2 separate regions of the Homo sapiens genome follow, and region 2 is linked to region 1. The links come from fine-mapping of genetic effects on gene expression. A gene starts in region 1. The other region holds a variant in brackets. All regions are shown on one strand. Distances are between the middles of the regions. Region 1 holds the start of ANKIB1 (ankyrin repeat and IBR domain containing 1). Region 2 overlaps ANKIB1 (ankyrin repeat and IBR domain containing 1).

Region 1 (8,625 bases):
TCCTGGAGAATACACACATTTTTAGCACATTTTAAAAGCTTGTGGTCCCGTTGTAGAACTAGAGGGAAAAAAAGGTAAACATGCCTGAAGATCTGTTACAGTTAACCATAATGAACTTTAGAATTATGTCTTTTCAAAAGTTTAAACAATGACTGAAAATTATTTTTGATAGTATATAATTATCTGCTTTATTGATTTATTTATTTTTAGGCGGAGTTTTGCTCTTGTTGCCCAGGCTAGAGTGCAATGGCGTGATCTCGGCTCACTGCAACCTCTGCCTCCTGGGTTCAGGCGATTCTCCTGCCTCAGCCTCCCGAGTAGCTGGGATTACAGGCATGTGCCACCACGCTCGGCTAATTTTGCATTTTTAGTAGAGATGGGGTTTCTCTATGTTGGTCAGGCTGGTCTCGAACTCCTGACCTCAGGTGATCCGCCTGCCTCAGCCTCCCAAAGTTCTGGGATTACAGGTGTGAGCCACTGCACCCAGCCAAATTATCTGCTTTAGAACACAAGATATACTAGTACCTTATGAAATTAGGATTTTTCTATTCAAAGCAATATTAGAGAATTAAAAACTGTTAATGACTGTACGACAGCTTCTCCCCTTTAAGGACTGTAAGTCAAATCTTTTCGAGAATATTACAAGAAAAAAAAATCCAGTAATACTATACACAAGATTCTGTATGGCTTTTTATTATTAAAATAATTTAGTTTAGTTTATTCGCGTGTGGGGGGGGAGATCTTTAAATGGAGATAAAATATATTTTGGGACTGTTCTAAGGATTAAATGAGATAACGTATGTAAAGCACTTAGCATGGTGACTGGCACAAATTAGGCACTCAATAAATGGCATCTATTGTGCTTATTCTTTTTTTTTTTTGAGACAGAGTCTCACCCTGTCACCCAGGCTGGAGTGCAATGGTGCGATCTCAGCTCACTGCAACCTCCACCTCCCAGGTTAAAGTGATTCTCCTGCCTCCACCTCCCAAGTAGCTGGGATTACAGGGGCGTGCCACCACACCCAGCTAGTTTTTTGTATCTTTAGTAGAGACAGAGTTTCACCATGTTGGCCAGGCTGGTCTTGATCTCTTGACCTCATGATCTGTCCACCTCGGCCTCCCAAAGTGCTGGGATTACAGGCGTGAGCCACAGCACCCGGCCGCTTATTCTTATACACAGGATATGAAACAACCTTGCAACAGGGTCAAGTGGCTTAAAAACCTGTAAGAGAAGCCAATAAAGGCAGGTGAATAGAAATCACAGTCAAATATCTAGACTGGTAACCTCAATGAGGAAAGGAACCTTGACTAATTTACCCTGGTAGTTCCAGAACCTAATAAAAGTGCTTGGCACACACAGTAGATGCTCAACAAAGGTTTACTGAAATGAAGTGGACATGAAAGTATCTGGAAGGCCAGGCGCAGTGGCTGACACCCATAATCCCAACATTTTGGGAGGCCAAGGCAGGCGGATCACCTGAGTTCAGGAGTTTGAGACCAGCCTGGCCAACGTGGCAAAACCTCGTCTCTACTAAAAATACAAAAATTAGCCGGGTGTGGTGGCGGGCACCTGTAGTCCCAGCTACTTGGGAGGCTGACGCAGGAGAATCGTTTGACCCCAGGAGGCGGAGGTTGTACTGAGCTAAGATCACACCACTGCACTCCAGCCTTGGCAAGAGAATGAGACTCCATCTCAAAAAAAAAAAAAAAAAGAAAGAAAAGAAAAAAGAAAAAAAGTATCTGGAAAAGAAAGAGGCAGTCTGAGGTTATCTGAAAAATAAACTGAGAATCCAAAAATTACCATTCCCCCTAAGGAAGTCACTTTGAAAAGTAAATTAAAAACCTAAACATTTTTAGATCAATGTATAAAAACTCCCACAGACTGGTCTCTTTAATAATGACTTAGTCCACTCCCAAATCCTTTTTGGCAAATGTGTCAAATATTTGAAGGAAATATTTTAAAACTTAATCTAAATAAATGTCATATGCATCCTCAATGGGGGAAAAATTACCCAAAGCACTGAGGAATCTTTTCCAACTTCATTTCAAGGACATTCAGATTAACTTAATTCATAGTTCTTCCATCTACTTATATATGAAAATGAGCTCGCACTTTTATCTACAAGCAAGTTGTAAATACACATATTTCACTTTCACAAGTTTGAGTGCATACCCCAGAAAAGAAAGAGGAAAGAAAACCCACTCTTTGAGAAGTGGGCAGTGCCACAGGAGTACAAAAGAGTGGCTAACAAAACTTCCCTCCCATGTTTCAGGAGTCACCTACCTGTTAGAGCCCTTGTTTACAGCACAGTTGGCACAGTTTCAGACTCCTTACATATTGAAAACTCAAAATTCTCGGTGTAGTGGTCAAGGGAACAGTGAAATAGGAAAATATAGTTCTATCTTCCCCATCCTACCCCAAGGAAAAGAGAATCAACAACATTTTTTCTAAGACTTCTCCAAGATAGCGCCCATCACCTCACTATAGCACCCTACTCTTATTCAGAAACTGAACAATTTTACAGAAAGCAAAAGCCACACCCTTAATAATACACTCAACTCTGCACAGTGCTTGGCTTCTGTGCTAAGTACATTTCCAGAGACAGAGTTGGAGCTACATCTCCTGAGCCTACTTCAAATTAAAATCTGTGAACAGTGAGAAGTTACAAATCAGATAATAGCCCAAAATCAACTGCTGAAAGGAGGTTGGGGGGAAAAGTCATTAAACACATCCATCTTTCTTAATGAAATGACAATGTTTTTCAGCAACACAAAACACCAAAGCTACCAGTCTACACTACACAGTAGTTTGCAGAATGACAACCTGCAGTACACAGTAAAATTATTCTTAAATTATCGTTTGCTTCCTATGGTGCTCTGAAAAGTAGCAAATGCATAAAGTCATATAAGAGCTATTGTCCAATCACTGACAGCATTAAAATTATTTTTAAATCTAATTTCTGGAAAGTTCTGCAGGAGCAGTTTGAAAAGCAAATCAAATTCTAATGAGAAAAAACGCCTAGTTCAAAAATCTGAAAATATACTTTGAAGACATTCACAGTTTAAGCAGCAGGAGGGTCATAGGCACCAAGGTGTGTAACATCTGTGAGTGGCTGATACAAAAAAAGATTTCTCTGGAATTAATGATTGAAAATAATTATCAAATACAATCTAATATGATCTTTAAACGTCTGTCTCAAAAGCAACAAAGCAAAAGCTTGTAACAAAGCAAAACCTTCCAATACACAGATTTTTACACCTTACACATACCCACATACTTCACAAATTAAGAACTAGATGAAAATTAGAACACTAAAATTTAAAGGTATCTAAAATACACTATTTGAAACAGCAGACTCTTATCTTTACATTTATCTGTCAGATCTACCAGTAAAGCTCTTCTGAAATGGTCATTCCAATACAAGATTGTTCGATATGCCATTCCGTGTGAATAGAGCTTGGGAGACTAATTCTCAAAATCTCCTCAGGAGATGCTTTATTACAGCTCTAGTTTCAATTTCCTGCGACTCAAACAGCTACGTACAGAAAAACAGCTCATACATACGGAGAAGAATAAGAATACAGGGGAGCGCTCCATTCTTTTGTTTTGGTGGCAGAAGCTGCAAAAATAAAGGTTCACTGGAGCCATCTGCACCTATCCCCACCCATCACAGCCCTGCAGAGCACTTTTACCCATCCGCTTCTCAAGACTCTCTCTAGCCCCCGAGGTCGGCAGAACCCGTGGCTTTCCACGTCTCAAAGGATGGGGGTGGGGGGGAGGCTGCGAGGAAGGACACAGATCCTTTGAGGACAGAGGGACAAGGAGATGCATCCAGATGGGGAGGATGGGACGCGTCACGGAGACCCGGAGGCTTGCAAATTCGCTGGGAGAAAAGCCCTGTAGGGCAGAGAATGCTGCCTGTTCAGGGATGGGGACAGACAGAACAACAATGCTCCAAAACAGGCGACAGACACACTCCTAGTAGATCCGGGAGGGTGTGAAGTAGGTAGCTCTGAACTCGGAGCCACAAATGGGTAGAGGCAGCCTCAAACACATCTGTACCGCGAAGCTGAGACTTACGGTTACTTCTCTCGCTGAGGGTAAGGGTCGGTGGACCCAGCAACTCCGCAGTTCCGCCTCCGCCGCCCCTGCCTCTACAGCCGAGCTGGTGACCTCAGGTACCCAGCCCGCCCCACCCACCCGGACGGTTGCCCCTTCCTCGCCGGCCCGGGTGCACCCGCCAGGCGGAGGCTGATGTGGCCGAGGGTGCGCACTGGCGGCCCGCGGGAAGCGCTGCGTGAGCCGAAGGCGCCCGCGGCGAGGCTCAGACTGGGTGGGCGCCCCCCATCCCTCTCCGGCCGCTGCGCCGCCTCACTCGGGGGAGGGGAAGAGGGGGCGGTGGCTCTTGCCTCCGCCTCGCGGTCAAGCCCGGCTCATGTTCCAGCCTTGCGCGCTCGCAGCCCCGGCCGCCCTCTTCCCCTCCCCCGCCTCCGGCTCCGGCTCCGGCTCAGCCGCTGGCACCCCCACCGCCACCACCCTAGTCTCCTAGTCGCCTGCCACCAGCCCCTGAGAGACTGCAGGTCCAGTGAAAAGGAGCAGGAACGGCAGCAGCCCGGCCGCCGACCCGGAAGCTCTTTCACCGCCAACCGCGAGGCTGCAAAGGGTGTGAACCCGGAAGCGATTTCATAGCCACGGTAACGGCGGGGTGGAAAGCTAAGGCCTTTGAAGACCTGGGACCCCGTAGTTTCGGGAGAGGGTGAGGGGTGAATGGTGCTGAGGTGCGAGGAGAGGGAAGGACAGTAAAGAGCAGGTGGGCAGGAGGGTCTCCGACTCCAGAGACCTGAGCTTTTGGGGCGCGGGTGGGAGCGCGGGGGAACCCTCAAGACGGCTTTCTTTTGGCGACTGAGGGTTTTTCTGCCACAGGAAGCTGGGCCGGGCTGCTGTGCCTGGGAGGAGGGAAGGAGGAATGAGAAAGCGGTGACGGTCCCTGCCCCCCCTCGCCAGGTGACTGTCCCACCCATTTAGTTGAATGTAGCGGCCAGAGAGGCACTCGCGGCAGCCCGTACGGGTGGGACCTCTCGGTGTCCTTCGGGAAACAGGAGGAGCAAGTTCGACTCCAGCGAGGGAAAACGGAGGTGGGAGACTGAACCATCTCCACATCTAGTTGCCCCAGGCAAGGAGTTTATTTTTCACATGTAGTTACAGAGAAACCATAGCCACTTTTTGGGTGGAAACTCTTTGAGCAAAGAGGCTTACGTTTTTCCCCAGTAGTGGACGTTGACGGGTGGTGGCGCAGGAAAAAACCTCCCAGGCAGAGTGATTACGTATTTTTGTCATTGCAGGGAAAGGGATTCACAGCTTGTCATTCTAACTCACTTCTCCCCCTGTAACTCACTTCTCGCCTCTACACTTTTCTCCACCTTTTAAGGTTTTTGGCTTTCATCGCTTTTTCTACATGTTTTTAGCCTCACCAGAAGTCTTTCATCTCGGTGGTCCAACTCAGGATCTCAGCCTCATTATTTTCTTACCCTTCTGGAGTGCATATGTGCCTTTACAGTTTCTGTTTGCAAACGCTGTCTAGCATACTAAGAGGATGTTAGCAAACCTGTTCCATGGACACTAAATGGCAGTTGTACATCTCCCCTCATCAGTCATAGTGACAACCAGAAATGCCCTCCATATTTTCCAGTGATCCCAGGTAGGTGCCACCCCCCTAATTAAGGACCACTTCCACTGCTTTATTTATAAGATCTTATTACTTAGGGAGCATATTATCATTTGTGCCTAACATTTTCCAGAATGGAGTGAGCCATATAACAAAATGCCACGTTTCCTGTACTTATTCACTTGAACCCTCATCTCAGACTCAGTCTAAACATATTGCAAACTCTAGTTATACCTTTCTTGTATTTTAGTTCAAGCTACTCATTTTCTATCAGTTTGTCTGTGTTTCTCCCTTAGCAGTTTTACCTTCCTATGTTAGTTACTTTTGTTATTTTCCTGTTAAGCCTTTGTTTCCTTCTTTCATGTCACTGGAAGAATGTAGATTTTAAGTAGTCAAGTACGAATAGTTCTTGAAAATGAATTTTAAGAATATTTTGGGGATATGGTAAAAAAGTATTTGGTTTAAGAAAACAAAATACTGTTACTGTCATAGTTATGTCTTTTTAAAATCACATTTGTTTACCTTTTAAAAGTTCAGGCTTCTGTGCAGTATTAATTAAATATTCTAGAGAAGTGATGAGTATTGACAAAGTACTTTGCTAGTAAATGTTTTCTTAACATGAGTTGACCAAGACAGGAATTGATTTGCTTTAAATTGTCTTTAGAAAAGTAAGAGTTACTTGATTTTTCTTTTAGGTCCTTAATAGATAAAATGGTTTCTGTAATTGTGCCCATATATCATACAGTGTATTCACAATACAATGTCTTTCTTTTTGGGGCTTGCAGTCTTCAATGCGTCTGTCTCATAATTTGTAAACGTTTATTATCTTGAAGTCATTGTTAATCTGTGGTGAAAAGTAATTGCTAAATAGAAATTCTGAGAAGAAAAAGGCCTCATCCTTTTCACATGATGTAGGAAGGTCTGTTGCATGAGGTGGGTTTTAAGAATGATTTTATACAAAAAATTGAACTGAAAAAAATTTCATGAAGTATATAATGATAAAGAATGATAACGTCCTCAAAACCTTTCACACAATGAAATGTCTCTATCCTAATGTGTCACTGTATTTTTTTCTAGTGAAATATCTGTAGGGTTTTTTTGGATCTAAATCAATGGAAAGTTTTAGAATTTAAAATAAATTTGAAAAGTATTTAAATTATTTTATTTAAAATTTTTGTACAATAATTTTAATGGTTGTTTTAATCTTAGGCTAAAGTTTATGTAAAATGCCAAAAGCTACTGTATTTTAAAAGAATTTCTTCTTAGGGTAATTTTACAATCATAAGGCACTTTTTAATTATTATTTAGGGAAGTGAATTAAAAGTTACAGAGTGACATTTTCAGTTGCAGTGGAAGAAACAGGATAAATTACTCTATCGCCTCTCAAATAACATTCAAAACCCTTTCTTGAAAATGGTCTATCTTGAGAGTTGCAGCAGTAGGGAACTCATTAAATATGAACAGGTAATTTTAATGCCTAATGGTTTTTAAAAAACTGAAGAAAGTTCATCTCAACATAGCTGGGAAAGAAACTCTTTAATGTTCTTTTAGAAATTTACTGACAAATAAATGGGGAGAAGCTTTTTCAAAAAAAGATAAAAAATAATCAGTACAGAAAGATGCACTTTAGTGTAGCCATGAAAGAAATTTATTCAATGAAGAAAACTATTATACAACTAAGATTGTGGTTGAAATTCAGTCACTTGTTGGAAATTGCGCAATGGAGACTTAAGATTTAGTGGGACAAAGTATATGCATAACACACACGCACACACACACACAGTGAATATATTTGGAATAAAAAATTTGGATTATTGACAGGTGTGGTGGCTCACGCCTGTAATCCGAGCACTTTGGGAGGCCGAGGCAGGTGGATCACTTGAGGTCAGGAGTTTGAGACCAGCCTGGCCAACATGGTAAAACTCCATCTCTACTAAAAGACACAAAAATTAGCCGAGCATGGTGGCACACGCCTGTTAATTCTGGCTACTCAGGAGGCTGAGGCAGGAGGGAGAATCGCCTGAACCCGGGAGGCGAGGGTTGCATTGAGGCGAGATTGTCACTGCACTCTAGCCTAAGTGACAGAGCGAGACTCTGTCTAAAACAAAACAAAACAAAAATTTGGATTATCAAGGAAATTGATAAGGGAAATGGAAAAGATTCTTAAATCACCTTCAGAAAGCTTTTATCAACTGACCAAATAGTTTTGGTTCTGTGATAAGCAACTCCAAAGAAAATTACATACTACGCTTTAGCTCATCCAAATGTCTGATATCAAAGTTATCCTTGCTGAAAGTTCTGGAGTAAATGTCAATGGATATAAAACATCTACCATTTCCAGCTTCCAAACTGTTAACAGTATAACTAACATTCACTTTTGTAATTTATGGAAAAAGTGTATATTATTCTGAATCACTATTTCAAGTCATTATTTACAAGTTATTTTATAATCATCATCACTTTTTTTTGGCCCCAAAGGCAGATTCTTACTATGCAGTTAACACCTATGAAAATGTATAACCCTATTTTAAAATGAAAAAAGAAATACAAAGGAAATCTTAAATTATCAGCTAAGGTTTTGAGTAGTTGAACAGTAAAGATGCAGTCAAAGTCATTCCTGGCTTGCCTTTTAGGCACTGTATATTCTAGGATAGAGAACATTTTATTTTTTTTTAATTTTTTCGACATGATTATGTGGAAATAAAAGTTTTCAATTTAAGATGCATTACTTTTTTTTATCTTGCCATCAAATGTGTCATTTAATCTTTCAAAGGATTTTTTTATTTGTTTTGTAAAGCAATGGGAAATCCAGAAAACATAGAAGATGCATATGTTGCTGTTATTCGTCCAAAGAATACTGCCAGTCTCAATTCTCGGGAATACAGAGCTAAGTCATATGAAGTAAGAACATTTAATAATAATTTATTTCTACCATTGAATGTCATTCTGTATTATCATT
Region 2 (8,709 bases), 150 kb before region 1:
CACACGGTGGGGTTCATGTTGTAGTTCAGCTGAACACTGGGTGTGAGGAATCCACTTCTTAAGCAGTTAAGCCTGCTCCTTGATCTCAAGTTACTAGTTACATAAATCCTGAGATGGCTCAGGCAAAATTGCCAACAGGGCCTTGCAGTCTTGGCACACCTAGTAAGATAAGAGGCCTGACTGAATCCTCCAACAATTATCCTTTTTGTACTTTGGCTTTGTTCACTCTCATGTGTTTGTCTCAACCTGTTATGTACTGATGGCTCACACAGGCTAGGCACTTATGCAATAAATACTTAATGGGACAGCTGGCTAAGACATGAAGACAGCTTGATTAAGAATATTGTCAAATTGCAGTTTCAAAGAGTGAAGAAGAATAATTCCTTCAGAAGTTTGGCCACCACTAAGTCTGTCAGCTACCTGTGAGTCCTAAGTGGAACTGAGGTCTAAAGGAAACTTTTCTGATTCATCTTTAAGAAATAAGTCTACTGCCAGTTCCTAAAGTACTGTCACATAATACAGTCTAGAAGAAGCCACTTCTATCTTTCTAGAAAGAAATCTTTCATTCCGGTGAGAAGGCTGTAACAACTGACAAGACAATATAATGTTGCCAAGGAGAAGACCCAGTAATTATGCCTGTAGCACAATGCTGAGATGAAACAACTTCTGGGCCAGGCACAGTGGCTCTCACCTGTAATCCCAGCACTTTGGGAGGCCCAGATGGGCGAATTTCTTAAGCCCAGGAGTTCAAGACTAGCCTGGGCAACATGGTGAAACCCCGTCTCTACAAAAAATACAAAAATTAGCGAGCATGGTGGCATGTGCCTGTAGTCCCAGCTACTTGGGAGGCTGAGGTAGGAAAATCACCTGAGCCCGGGAGGTTGAGGCTGCAGTGAGCTATGATCACATCACTGCACTCCAGCCTGGGCGACAGAGTAAGATCCTTTGTTTTTCTCAGAAGAGAAAACAAAGAAAACAAACAAAAAAAAACCTACTACTCAGTCCAAGAGCTGACTGCATGAAAAATTTTTTCCTTTGGAGTTATTTCAGCCTTAAAACACCCCCAAAGTTTGTATTATCACTTAATATTTAGATTCCAAGGTTTTACTCTTCAGAGATATACTATCACTGCTTTTAAATTATGATCAAACTTTAATAAATTCCAGATTTTAATTCATAACACGTAAATGATAAATATTTGAGGACTCAAAGGAGATAAAAAATGAGATCAGTGGCTGTAATGAACAACAATTAAGGAATAATTCAGCCTATGAACATTGGTAGTTAAGCTTCAGATCCACATAATGAAAGGCATAAATAAGATGACGCCACTTTAAATGATTATCACCAGCAGACCCCATGAAGCACCAGCTGGGGCATGGTCAAATGTCATGGGTTATTTTGGTAACTCATAAGGGACACAATAATAAAGTGAAAGAGAAGCAGGCATTTTTATTCACATGGCATAAAATTTTTTTCTTTCCTAAGCAATTTCACAAAACATATCTTAAAGTTATTTTTCTATGTATTTCTATTAGAGTTCAAGAAAAAATAACATTTTTCTCCTGAAAGCTACAGTGATGTCAATAAAATGAGCACTGATGTCATAATGTTTTAACACATTGTCATGCAGTGTTTTCATATTTATAACTGGGATATAAAATGCTCAGTAAGTGGCTAGTGTAAAAATATTAGGCACTAATCAATTACATGTAAGAACCAAATTGATCCCATCACATTGGAGGGATTTAATTTGAAGAAAATCAGCTTTCTGACTTGGTTAAAACAAAGTCTACAATGTAATGAGACAAAATGGAAGTAGTTTAAGTAATAAATGTTTAATCAAAGAATTTTACATATTATTAACAGCATTCATTTGGCCAAACATCTACACGTTTGTAGAATCCTACTGTATATAAAGTGGGAATGTATCAAGTATAGACTATGAAAGTGCAAATAACAAGTCAAGGTTAGATTAACTTTTTTTTTTTACATTATAAAATTAACTTGTTTACAAAATAGGCTTTGCCAAACTTCATTACTGAATTGTAAAGTCAATGACTGTGTTGTTTTTAAAATATGTACCAAGGAAATACAAATTGGATAATGATCATTTTTCATGCTCAGGAGAGAACAGCACAGAAATAAAGGATACTGCACAAGGTGCAAGGAAACCGGAACCCATTGTGTACACTGTCTTCACACAGAGCATTCTTTCTCACCTTAACTGCAGCTGTGCAAGATGCCTCAGTGTGATGCAAAGACTCTATATTGGAAAAATTACAACTTGGTCTAAAAACTTATTGGTGTTGATATTTTTAATCCAAAATAAATTTATAAAAAAATCCTTTAATGGACTATTTCAGTTTAATATACAGTAATACACTGTAGATAAAGTTAATATTCCCCCCACTAATTTAATAGGGATTGATATCAATGTTTCTGATCACTGGAGAAATAAAAACTAATGTGGACCTTTGATATCCATGGCATAGGAGGATTCCCACAGTTTATCCTAAGAGGATCTGGGGAATATTAAATATTCTAATACAGTGTCTTAGCAATATGAATTTTAAGTACAAGGATATTTCAAAAGCAGGGTTTGGAAAAAAAAAAAGTAATCAAAACCCATAATCACATCTCTTGTGGATAACAATATTAATATAACTTTTTACCCAGCCCAGGACTTGCCTGTACAAACTCAGAACTGAAAGTTTGGTATCTGTAGACTTCTGGTAACAATCTGGCAAAACACTAAATGGAGTGTTGTACTTATCTATTTTGCTTATGTTATGCTAGTTTTGATAATATTTAAGTAAAACAGCCATTCCAACAGTTTACTCTAGTTTTAATTACACACTGTACCATTGTATCCTAATTACAACTAAGACCAGTATTTTCTTCACAGTAAGACACTGATAACTAGGAAGTTGATTTTTTTCAACACTAAACAGTAATCACACAGCAAATGAGTATTGCGCAGTAGAACAAACACATGTCAGCATTTGCTAGTTAGGCAAACAAACTGATTGAACATTTAGTTGTTATAGTTAGTGTAAAAGCAAGGCCATGGGTGGTTTTATGGAGGTCTTTGCAATTCATAGCATAGTTACTTCAGAAGAGACATTGAAATTTGAATTACTCACTTATTTAACTGGCAACTATCCATTTAGGTTAGGCAAAGGCACGGTAACATGTTGCGCAGGATGTTTTACTGAATTTCTTAATAATCGTGGGATTTACTATAACTCATGAAAACTCCACTTTTTTTCTATTTTATAAAACACGATTAAAAGTAATTGCACCCATCAGTAATTAGAATGCACTGTAAAATTGTGAAAACAAATAACTATGATTGCA[C/T]TTCCAATAAAGTGTCTCTTAAAATACAGCACCGCTGTTGCTAATCAACTGTATTTTAATATTAAAATAAACTGTTTTTAACAGCAGCATTAGGTTTAGTTAACTTAAGCTACAGGCTACATTTATATAAATGCAGTCTCCATGGCAACAAAAACCCATTTAATTCTGGAATATCATTGCTACCAAGTGGCACCTTTTACTCCCGAGAACGCTGACACTGCCCTGGAGCACTCTAGGATGCTGCACACCTAAATGCCTTGTTAGTCAGCACACAAGTAAGAGTTTGGCACAATTGGACTGTAAATAGACATGAAAGGAAACCTTTGATTCATGTGAAAATTAAAACTAATTACACTATGGTAGATGTGGTACTAAAGAGACTTCAATTCACATTGCTCAGACAAAAAGGAAGTAAGTTATGGAAGAGCACAAAGAGATTGAGGACATATATGTTATCGGATTTATCCAAAATAAATTTCTAGAATGAAGAAAACTTTTTTTTTTTTTTTAAAGGAAAGCCACCCAAAGATTAGGGAGTAAGCCTTTAGTTTAAATGTTCAATTTAAGTATTGTCAAGCCTAGGCTAAATAGAGGACTGCATTTTCTTAGAGTGTGGAATACAACTTATTTATTTCATTTTTGTTTCTCTTTCTCTTGCTCTTCTTTTTGTCAGCAAAAAGGGGAAAAGCTATTCAATTAAGTACAAAGGAAATTCCCTGTAAGGTTAAAATAAAAAATGAAGCTACCATTCAAGGGAACTTCTCTGTATTCAACCCTAATGTCAGTGGTTTATCACTGAGTTGGAATTAAGTGAATCAAAGTCTCTATCAAGCATACTCCACCTAGCATACCATCTGTACCTGTAATTCATTTAGAGCCCAGATGTGTGCAGTTCACACTAAATGTACTTGTTCAAGCCAGTCACTTGAGGTTTGAGGTGTTTGACTTGAAACATCTGAACCATCTCCTCTGTTGGCTGCCTCGTTACCACTGTCACCAGCTTGAGATGCTGCTTCCCCCGCCAGAATATTTTCTTCCAAAGGATTTTCTTCTATCTGGGTTCCTCTACCTTCACTGACACTGGCATCTTCAAACATTGAATCTTCTGGCAGCACCAGTTCCACATCCTTCACACCTTCTGACCCATCTTTGATACAGGGGAGCTGGGAATCTGCACTGATTTCTGTAGTTGCTGGAGGAATCAGGGCAATACTCTGAGGGTTCATGTCATGAAACCAAGCCATGATGTTGCCGAGAAGATTGTCATTGATGTTGGGGTCCTGGCCAGCTGAGTCAGGATCACTAGATGAGGGACAGAAATCACTTCTTGCCTCACTGAGAGGGTGTGAGCTCAGGGTGTCAGTTGAAAATGGGTCATTCTCTGCTCCTAGTCTCATGAGGCTGTCACCAAGTTCCAAAAGCTCAGAGCTGCTCAATGCAGCCCGAGGGCTATCTGTATTTCTGGGGACAGAGTCCAGCCTGGAAGGTAAAGAAGTGCCTATCGCACCTAAGGATGCTTCATTACTGAGGAAGTCTCTAGTTTCTTCATCGAGGGCCAGCCCAGACTCTTGCAGTGATAACTGTATTGCAAGAAGTATATTGGGATCGTCTTCATCCAAGGAACTCAGAGCCTGAAGCAACAGAAAGCAAAACCACTTTAAAATTTGACTGAAAAAAACTGATTTAACTCAATCAGGTTTACCATTCTTCCTTTACCAACAGATTATTAATTTTATTTATACAGAAAAATTATTTTATCTACTAAAATCTTGTATTTTTCTCCATGCCCATGCTAAAGGAAAAAAAAAACATACCTTAAAATAAATCTAAAATATAGGAATATCTTTTCCTGCAGCACATCTTTAAAACAAAGATTTTAGAATGGAAGGAAGAAATAGGAAAGCGATGAAAGTAACAACAGGAAACCACACTCAGCAGAGAAAGAGTAAAAGCACAGGCAATGAGGCTGTTCAGAAAGGCTACCTGAAGAGAGTCCTGGTTTTCAGAGCGACTGGCAGGGGTGTAGTCACGCAGGGAAGAGCTGTGCAGCACACTCATAGATGCAGAACTTACCACGGATGTGCCAGGCCTGCGGCTGCTGCTGCCGCCTTCTGGAATATCTGTTTCAAAGCAATTGGTACCAAAGACAATTTAGTGACAAATAAGACTTATTTATTTTTTTCATACATCTGGTTGTTTAGATGGGCAATTTCTCTTTCAGTGCTGGGGAAAACCTGTGTTGACATGTTCACTTAATCTTTCTGGGATTTCTCATCCATATTTGTCTTACCATGAAGAATAATATATATATGATACTATCACTTCAAATCCGTAACTTTTTACTTTTTTTTTTTTTTGAGATGGAGTCTTGCTTTGTCGACCTAGCTGGAGTGCAGTGGCGCAATCTTGGCTCACTGCAACCTCTGCCTCCTGGGTTCAAGCGATTCTCCTGCCTCAGCCTCTCGAGTGGTTGGGACTACAGATGTGCACCACCATGCCTGGCTAATTTTTGCATTTTCAGTAGAGATAGGGTTTCACCATGTTGGTCAGGATGGTCTCCATCTCCTGACATTGTGATCCGCACACCTTGGCCTCCCAAAGTGCTGGGATGACAGGCATGAGCCACCGTGCCTGGCTGACTTTTTTACACTTTTGCTTGCAGTCTATATAGTTCTATTCATAAATGCAAGTGCTACTATCCATTTCTCTTTTTTTGTTAAGCAATAACTAATAAACGTTTTTCATTTTTAGATTTCTTAAAATTAAATAATTTGGGAATTACAATAGTCTGAAGAGCAAATCTTTAGTCCCATTGATCCTGACATTATAGTCAGAAGATTTTCACTTAATAATTTAACATTTAAAAGTTGAATAATTAAAATAATTTATCTCTAATGCCAGAAATTCTCTCTCTTTTAAATAATGTCTACAGGACAACTAAGGCTAGGAGACAAATATTCCATGAACACAAAACAGTATCAATCAATACTACAATTAACTGAGTGCTTCACTAGGTGCTTAAGTGTTTTAGATGCATTATCTAATTTAATACTCACAATGAGCCTATAAGGTGGCACTATTATTATTGTGTCTTTAGAATATGGAAACAACCTTAGAGAGGTTGTGACCTGACTAGGTTACACAGCTAATATGCAGCAGAGATGGGGTCATGAATCCAAGTTTGCCTAACTCCACAGACCATGCTCCTAACTCCTCTGATTTTCTGTGTCCTGTCACAACAGAAACATCTGCATATTTATTGTATATCTAAATGACAAACTCGTTCACAAAAATTTACATCAGCCAGTTTGAAGGATAAATTCAGGGGAGCTATGAGATTAAACCATACTCAATGCAAGGACTTACCTAAAGTGCTTTCACTTGGCTCATCAGGGTCTGGAGGATTACTGAGTAGACTGTGAACATCTCCTCGACGACGTTGTCTGTGCCTCCTCCGATACTGAAATTCAGCATATTCCTGCATAAACCAAAGGTTATAAAATACAAGAGAGCATGCAATTTTTAAAATGCAAATAAAACAAAGTACACACTTTTTTCCAGGGGAAAAAGTTTGTGATTTTATACACATCTTATAAAATCACTTGGCTGAAACATCAGGTTTTGCCATGCCAAGGAAACACAAAAGGTAAAATGGAAAAAGAAAGTTTTCAACAGTCATTACAATTGCCTAGATAAATTAGGAATACTTGCAAGCCCCAGTGCTACATTAGAACAGCCCTATTTTATATGCCTGATGATTTCAAGGATCTTGTTATCTAATTAATACTACAACCATATTACTCATTTAAGTAAGGCTTTCCTTGAAGGGAGGTTTTTTATTTTTTATTTTTTTATTTTTAGAGTCAGAGTCTTGCTATGTTGCTTAGGCTGGTCTTGAACTTCTGGCCTCAAGCAATCCCTACTGCTCGGCCTCCTAAGTAGCTGGGATTACAGGTGTGAGCCATTGAAACTGGATATGAAAGTGGCTTTAAAAACGTGACCAGGGGTGGGTGCTGTGGCTCACGCCTGTAATCCCAGTACTTTGGGAGGCCGAAGCAGGCAGATCACCTGAGGTCAGGAATTTGAGACCAGCCTGGCCAACATGGTGAAACCCCATCTCTACTAAAAATACAAAAAATTAGCCGGGCGTGGTGGTGGCACCTGTAATCCCAGCTACTCGAGAGGCTGAGGCAGGAGAATCACTTGAACCCAGGAGGTGGAGGTTGCAGTGATCCGAGATTGTGCCACTGCAGCCTGGGCAACAACAGCAAGACTCCATCTCAAAAAAAAAAAAAAAAAAAAAAGTGACTGGGATATATGTAACAGAAAAAGAAAAAAAGGAACAACAGTAAAAAATAACACACACTGTTAAGTACTTGCCAGATTGTTGGATTTTCTATTCTTTGGGACTACTACATATCATATTCACAAATCAAATGACTAGATTAAAAGACAAATGTTAGGTTAGCTTTAAAATAAGATGATTATTTAGCTTCTTTTCTATATAAGCCAATATGTGGTGCTATTTACAACACAAGCAGGGGAAATGTTTTCTATTTAGCATATGGGATGAACACAGACTTAGGCAGATGTCCTCAGCCTATTCCACATTTGTGACAATGTTTAAAGTTAGTTTGTTATCACCAGAGGGTACAACCTGGGACCATCGCTATTACCTGGGTATAAATGTGACAGAAGAGAAGAGAATAAAAGAGAAGGGAAGAGAAGAGAGGAGGCCAGGGTACATGATACCAACATAAAAAGGCTAATTTAGAGAATCATTATGGTGTCTTTCCATGATAAACACTAAGATATTCAACTTTATGATTATCCTGGTTACCCTAGAATATTCAATATGCTTATATTGTGAAAGTACTAGAAGTAGGTGAAGACAAATTTTGGATCACAAATAAAACTTTCACATCATACCACTCTGGTGACATTTATTTAAACTCCTTTATTTATATAAGCAGTTGGACTCTTAAGAAGTGGGAGGCATCCTGTTAGGTTAGAAACTAATAAATGAAAGATACTCCAAGTGCCCTGAGGGTTTATACTGGTTCTTTAAAATGCCTTGCTGAGGTGGGACATCATTTCCTCTTCTCCTAGAGGCCCATGACCTCAAACTGATGACTTAAGTGTCGTCAAGGCTCAACAGACCAGTGAGGAACACCAACTAGATTTCTTAGACAAAGATGGTGTGAAAATTTTATCTCAATTCAAGTTTTATATTAGGGATAATTTGCTTACTTTGTAAACTTGATAATGGTACAAAGTTATGAATTAAACTATTACTGACCATAGACTATACATATTTCCAATTTAAGAAAATGAAACCGTTTAAAAGCA

Evidence for each region. PIP is the estimated chance that this variant, and not a neighbour inherited with it, causes the effect. A credible set is the group of variants that fine-mapping cannot tell apart.
Region 2: its variant is the best candidate, but not a certain one, in a credible set for the expression of ANKIB1 in whole blood (INTERVAL, PIP 0.88).

What each region holds. Positions count from the first base shown.
Region 1 is chr7:92,241,976-92,250,600 of GRCh38, reverse strand. ANKIB1 (ankyrin repeat and IBR domain containing 1) reads right to left here and starts at 4,627. Exons shown (of 20, transcript NM_019004.2): 1 at 4,082-4,627. It overlaps KRIT1 (KRIT1 ankyrin repeat containing), which reads left to right and starts at 4,687. Exons shown (of 19, transcript NM_194454.3): 1 at 4,687-4,811; 2 at 5,430-5,699; 3 at 6,452-6,599; 4 at 8,464-8,567. The coding sequence starts at 8,466. RefSeq lists a silencer at 4,192-4,581 and an enhancer at 4,512-4,806.
Region 2 is chr7:92,394,494-92,403,202 of GRCh38, reverse strand. It overlaps ANKIB1 (ankyrin repeat and IBR domain containing 1), which reads right to left. Exons shown (of 20, transcript NM_019004.2): 18 at 6,727-6,838; 19 at 5,344-5,480; 20 at 1,820-4,991. The coding sequence ends at 4,254. Among named protein-coding and RNA genes, the nearest start is that of GATAD1, 49 kb to the left of the region's middle. The variant C/T (reference allele first, on the strand shown) is at 3,361.